Linked DNA regions of Homo sapiens: region 1 is linked to region 2. Evidence: fine-mapped expression QTL. A gene starts in region 2. The other region holds a variant in brackets. All regions are shown on one strand. Distances are from middle to middle.

Region 1 (2,908 bases), 270 kb before region 2:
GAAGTTTCGTATGATGGATGGGCCAAGTGACGGTGCTGGGGATTGTGTGGGGTGTTCCAGGCAGAGGGAACAGTGTATGGAGAGGCACAGAGGATGGGCAGATGGTGATGGTAAAGGAATGATTTTCTCTATGTAATAGTGGGAAGGAAAAATGTTGCTCTTCAGAAAGATAATTCCTGGCTTATTATCACTTCCAGGGAAGGGACAACATTCGCAGCACGGATAGGTGGTTCTTTTTTGTTTGTTTTTTCGCTCTTGTTGCCGAGGCTGGAGTGCAATGGCATGATCTCACTCACTGCAACCTCCACCTCCAGGGTTCAAGCTATTCTCGTGCCTCCGCCTCCCGAGTAGCTGGGATTACAGGCATGCGCCACCACGCCCAGATAATTTTGTATTTTTAGTAGAGATGGAGTTTCACCATGTTGGTCAGGCTGGTCTTGAACTCCTGACCTCAAGTGATCCACCCACCTCAGCCTCCCAAAGTGCTGGGATTACAGGCGTGAGCCACCGCGCCTGGCCAGGTGGTTCTTTTTATTGAGGAAACAGCCAGTGATTCTTGGGAGGGGTAAGGAAGGGAGGGGGAGGTATGAGATAAAGAGAGCAGAATTGCTCTGCTCAAGAAAGGAAGAAGTGAGAGGAATTTGGAGTTTGGGGCAGCCTGGGGGAATAGGCCTGAGAAAGTTGGAGAGAGGGGGTCAGTGAGGAGAATAAATGAGAAGATGGGAAGGTCCAAGGAAGAACCTTAGGTCAAATAGAGAAGTCATCATGAGCTGGAGAACAGGAGAAGCAGAGATAAGGGGAACACGAGATTTTTCCAAGGAATATACAAAACACAAAGTTTTTTAGCACAGACTTCCACATTGTGTGGGACAGGGCTTGAGTAATTTTTTTTTTTTTTTTTTGACACTGTGTCTTGCTTTGTAACACAAGCAGGAGTGCAGTAGCATGATCATGGCTCACTGCAGTCTCAAACTCCTGGGCTCAAGTGATCCTCCTACTTCAGCCTCCAGAGTAGCTGGGACCACAGACACCCACCACCATGCCCAGCTAATTTTGTATTTGTTTTTTTGTGGAGACAGAGTCTCATTATGTTGCCCAGTCTGGTTTTGAATTCTTGGCCTCCAGTGATCCTCCCACTTCAGCTTCCCAAAGTGCTGGGATTACAGGTGTAAGCCATCACTTCTGGCCTGAATTTTTAAAAATTTTTATTTATTTATTTTATTTTTTATTTTTTTTGAGGCGGAGTCTCACTCTGTCACCCAGGCTGGGATGCAGTGGCGTGATCTCGGCTCACTGCAACCTCTGCCTCCTGGGTTCAGCAATTCTCCTGTCTCAACCTCCCAAGTAGCTGGGACTACAGGTGCGCACCACCACACCTGGCTAACTTTTGTATTTTTAGTAGAGATGGAATTTTGCCCCATTAGCCAGGCTGGTCTTGAACTCCTAACCTCAGGTGATCCATCCTCCTTGGCCTCCCAAAGTGCTGGGATTACAGGCGTGAGCCACCGTACCCAGCCATTTATTTATATTTTCATGGACAGAGTCTTGCTCTGTTGTAAGCTACTTAAGAGACAGGGGTGGGAGGATAGCTTGAGCCTGGGAAGCGGAGGTTGCAGTGAGCCAAGATGGTGCCACTGCACTCCAGAGTGAAGACAGGGGAGACTCTGTCTCAAAAAACAACAAAAAAAAAAAAAAAAA[AG/G]AAAAAAGAAAAGGAAGAAAGAAAATCCCTAGATATAATGGCTGTGCCACTTTGAGTCTGCAGTGAGCTACGATTGTGCCACTACACCTAGGCTGGAATGCAGCGGCACAATCATAGCTCACTGCAGCCTCAAATTTCTCACCTCAAGAGGTTCTCCCCTCTTGGCCTTCCAAAGTGCTATGATTACAGGAATGAGCCACTGTACCCGGCCCCTATATTAGTTTTAAAATGCATTTTTCTATTTAAAAATGTCATTGGGATTTTGATAAGGATTGCATTGAATCTGTAGATTGCTTTGGGTAGTACAGAAAATTTAACAATATTAAGTCTTCCAATACGTGAACACGTGATGTGTTTCCATTTATAACTTCTTTAATTTCTTTCAGCAATGTTTTGCTGTTTTCATTGTATAAATCTTTCACTCCTTTGGTTAACTTAGTTCCTAAGCATTGTAAACGGAATTGTTTCCAGTTTCCTTTTCAGATTATTCACTGTCAGTGTATAGAAATGCAAGTGCTTTTGCATATTGACTGTATATCCTGCTACTTTGTTGATTCATTTATTAGTTCTAACAGTTTTTTGTGAAATCTTTAGGGTTTTCTACATATAAAATCACATTATTTGCAAACAGATGATTTTACTCCTCTTGTCCAATTTGGATGCGTTTTCTTTTTCTTGCCTAATTGCTCTGGCTAGAACTTCCACCATTATGCTGAAAAGAAGTGGTGAAACAGACATGGTGAAAGTGGGCATCCCTTCCTGCTGCAGATCTGGAAAAAAAAAAAAGTGGGAATCTTGTCTTGTTCCTGATCTTAGAGGAAAAGCTTTCAGTCTTTTTCCACTGAGTATGCTATTTCCTGTGGGTTTTTCATATATGGTTTTAATTATGTTGATGTAGTTTTCCTTCATTCTTAGTTTTTCAAGTGCTTTTTATCGTGAAAGGGTATCAAATTTTGTCTGTTGTTTTCTCTGCATCAATTGAGCAGATCATGTATTTTACTTCCCTTCATTCTGTTAGTGTGGTATATAACATTTTTCAATTTTCATATGTTCAACCATCCTAGCATTCCAGGAATAAATTCCATTTGTTTCTGTTACATAATCCCTTTAATATGTGGCTGAATTTGGTTCACTGGTATTTTGTTGAGAATTTCTGTGTCAATATTCATAAGGGATATTGGTCTGTGGTGTTTTTTTTTTGTGATGTCT
Region 2 (2,908 bases):
GATCAGGTTTGAGTGGGTACCTGGGGTACAACAAGGATGTCGGAGAAAATGATGGCAGCATCCAGAGGGAAGCGACGCAGTGGCTGTAGGAAACAGGAGACAGGTTGCTAGGTGGCAGACTGAAGGCATAAATCTTTCCCTCTTTTGTGGACCCCTCACCTGCAGAGTCAGTTCACAGCAGGCCTCAGGAGAGCGACACGTGCTGAAAAAGTCCTGGGCAGCCCGGGTTTCCCTAAACTCTGCATACAGAGGGAAGACAGGGCTCAGCCTTGAGGCCCTCCAGAGCCCTCCCCTGCCCCTCGAAAACTTTTCTCCCTCCGGAGTTTTATCTAGATTTCCAGACCCTGACTCTTACCTGGTAAGTAACGGCCTGCCTGGCGCATGCACCAAACGGGAGTGTAGTCTGTTTCCTCTCCCCAGGCTGCTCGCAGGAATGTGTCATTCTTCAGCTCCGGAAAACCCTGAGGTCTGGCGATCAGGTGGGGGTGGGGGTAGGTGTCAGTATGCTACGCTGGAGGCTGGGGAAAGCGCGGGTTCATAAGGCCGATTCAGTCCAGGACCGCTATCTACCTCCTCCAGGCCAGCTCCCAAACCCTGGCTTTCCGCCCGTTCCGCCTCCTCTCTGCCTATCAGGTGGTGCACAAACTCCAGAAGGGCCCGCCCTGGGGCCTCTTCCCTCCACTTAGTCTCTACTCTTCCAAGCTCGAAGCAACCAGAGGGACTGGGGGGAGGGAATGAAGGCCCACTAAGGATAGTTTGGGGGTCTTCGAACTAGTGAGCCTCAGAAACGGGAATGTCACTGGGCTGGTTCAGGGGCTGAGAAATACCCAGGCTGGGGGATAAAGAGGGATCAGAGTTGATGGTCCCAGAATAGAGATCCTGGTTGGAAATCCTGAGGCATCCCTTGAATTAAGGCCCTGGGATGAACATCTCAAAAATCCATGGTTTTAGGATTCAGGATCCCAGCTAACGGAGTTCAGGTTGGGAGGTCTCCAGGGTGGGGAAAGGGGAGTAGAGGGATAGAGTCCTGAGTTGGAAGACTCAAATTAGAAGCCCGGCTAGCCACACCGCGTGCTCTGGAGAACTCACCCCAACCCATTCGCTTCCATGGTCAGCTGTCTGTAACTGCGAGCTCAATCCACAATTTAACCTGAATCTGAGCCTGCCCCCCAGTCCAGGCTCCGCCCCTTTCTGTAGGGAACCAAGAGCGTCGCCATGTTGAAGATCACATGATCGGACTCCAGCGACAGCTCCAGGGCTGCCCTGGCTGCTGCCCGTAGGACCCCTACCTTTTTTCACCGTAAAGTTTGCTGTAGCGACGCAACAACAAAGGCCCAAAAGAAAACTCCGCTGTAAATGTATCTTACGGTGACATGAGGAATTTGTTCTCATCTGACAGTCTGGGTATCCGGAGGCTTGGCGCAAGTCCCACTCATGATACCAACAGTCTTATCCAGCCAGGTCCATACTATAGCCTGGACCTATAGTAGGTGCAGAGGTTAGCTCTGCTCAAGACAGCCCCAGCCTTTAAGGAGCTACAAGACTGGGGAAACAGAAATCAGCAATCACATTAAAATGAATAATGATCTCCAGTGTCCTTGGGATTAGGAGTGACAAACAGAATCAACCCTAATGACTCAAGACTCCTGTCAGTGGCAGGGGAAGGGGCCATTGTCTCAAACACTTTAATCACACCACCCATAGGATAGGGAGTCCAGCAGATTCGCTGGGAGTGGGAGGAAAAACAGCAGGCCGAAGAACCAGAAAAATGACTGTTGGCAATGACCCAGGCTAGCTAGAATGGTGACTTGAATGAGGGTAGTAGCAGTAGAGATAAAATGGTAGTCACAAGGAAATGGAGAGAGGGAGATTGATCAGGTAGCAATCACCAATCTTGGGTTTGGTCGGCTGGGTTAGGGTGGCACAGAGATAAGTAATATGGTTGAGTGTGGGAGTACACAGTCCAATACAGTGAGAGCTGGGGTGCGCTTAGTCCAGAACATACGGCAAAGGCTGGCCAAAGGCGGGGAAGGGCGTGGTGGGAAGCTCTGTCCGCGGTCGCGCCAGCTGTTCCCCGGGCAGGGTCGCCTCTAGGTGCTCACCTCCGCCACTTCGCCATGGCGGGTCCTGGCCCGGGCGCGGTGCTGGAGTCCCCCCGGCAGCTGCTGGGCCGCGTGCGCTTCTTGGCAGAGGCAGCGCGGAGCCTCCGCGCCGGGCGGCCGCTGCCAGCAGCGCTGGCTTTCGTGCCGCGAGAGGTGCTCTACAAGCTTTACAAGGACCCAGCGGGACCGTCGCGCGTGCTTCTGCCGGTGTGGGAGGCAGAGGGCCTGGGGCTGCGTGTGGGCGCCGCAGGCCCAGCCCCCGGTACCGGCTCCGGGCCCCTCCGCGCCGCCCGCGACAGCATTGAGCTCCGGCGCGGCGCCTGCGTGCGCACCACGGGCGAGGAGCTGTGCAATGGCCACGGGCTCTGGGTGAAGCTGACAAAGGTGCGCTCTTCCCTGCCCAGGACCCGGTAAAAGACCCCTGGGGCCAGAGAAACCTCTGGCTGTTTGCCTTTTCTCCCCTGTATTGAGTTGGCATTGCGTTCGGCGCCCTTTGCCCTGGGCTGGGCACGACAGGCGGCTGGGCAGTTCCCTGACGGCTGTCCCCATCCTACGCGTCCCGGCAGGAGCAGCTGGCAGAGCACCTGGGCGACTGCGGGCTGCAGGAAGGCTGGCTGCTGGTGTGCCGCCCGGCGGAGGGCGGAGCCCGCCTGGTACCCATCGACACTCCCAACCACCTCCAGCGGCAGCAGCAGCTCTTTGGCGTGGATTATCGGCCGGTGCTCAGGTACTGCACTTGAAGGAGCGGGGCTGGCTGTCAGAAGGCCGGGCCAGGAGGGCTTGGGAACACTTCAGCCACAGCCTGG

Which allele goes with the higher level. Alleles are on the strand shown, and positions count from the first base shown. SD is a standard deviation of normalised expression in the study named.
For the expression in monocytes after LPS of the gene that starts at base 1,121 in region 2, allele G in region 1 goes with a lower level than allele AG (moderate effect, 0.75 SD a copy in Quach 2016).

The links.
Region 1: its variant is fine-mapped to the expression of UROD in monocytes after LPS (Quach 2016, PIP 0.95). The same link has a PIP of 0.9 or more in monocytes after R848.

What each region holds. Positions count from the first base shown.
Region 1 is chr1:45,279,257-45,282,164 of GRCh38, reverse strand. No RefSeq gene overlaps it. Among named protein-coding and RNA genes, the nearest start is that of LINC01144, 23 kb to the left of the region's middle. The variant AG/G (reference allele first, on the strand shown) is at 1,699.
Region 2 is chr1:45,010,467-45,013,374 of GRCh38, reverse strand. It overlaps UROD (uroporphyrinogen decarboxylase), which reads right to left and starts at 1,121. Exons shown (of 10, transcript NM_000374.5): 1 at 1,090-1,121; 2 at 356-468; 3 at 160-239; 4 at 21-83. The coding sequence starts at 1,109. HECTD3 (HECT domain E3 ubiquitin protein ligase 3) reads left to right here and starts at 2,051. Exons shown (of 21, transcript NM_024602.6): 1 at 2,051-2,486; 2 at 2,669-2,829. The coding sequence starts at 2,118. RefSeq lists enhancers at 1,025-1,154, 1,195-1,244 and silencers at 2,005-2,134, 2,215-2,384.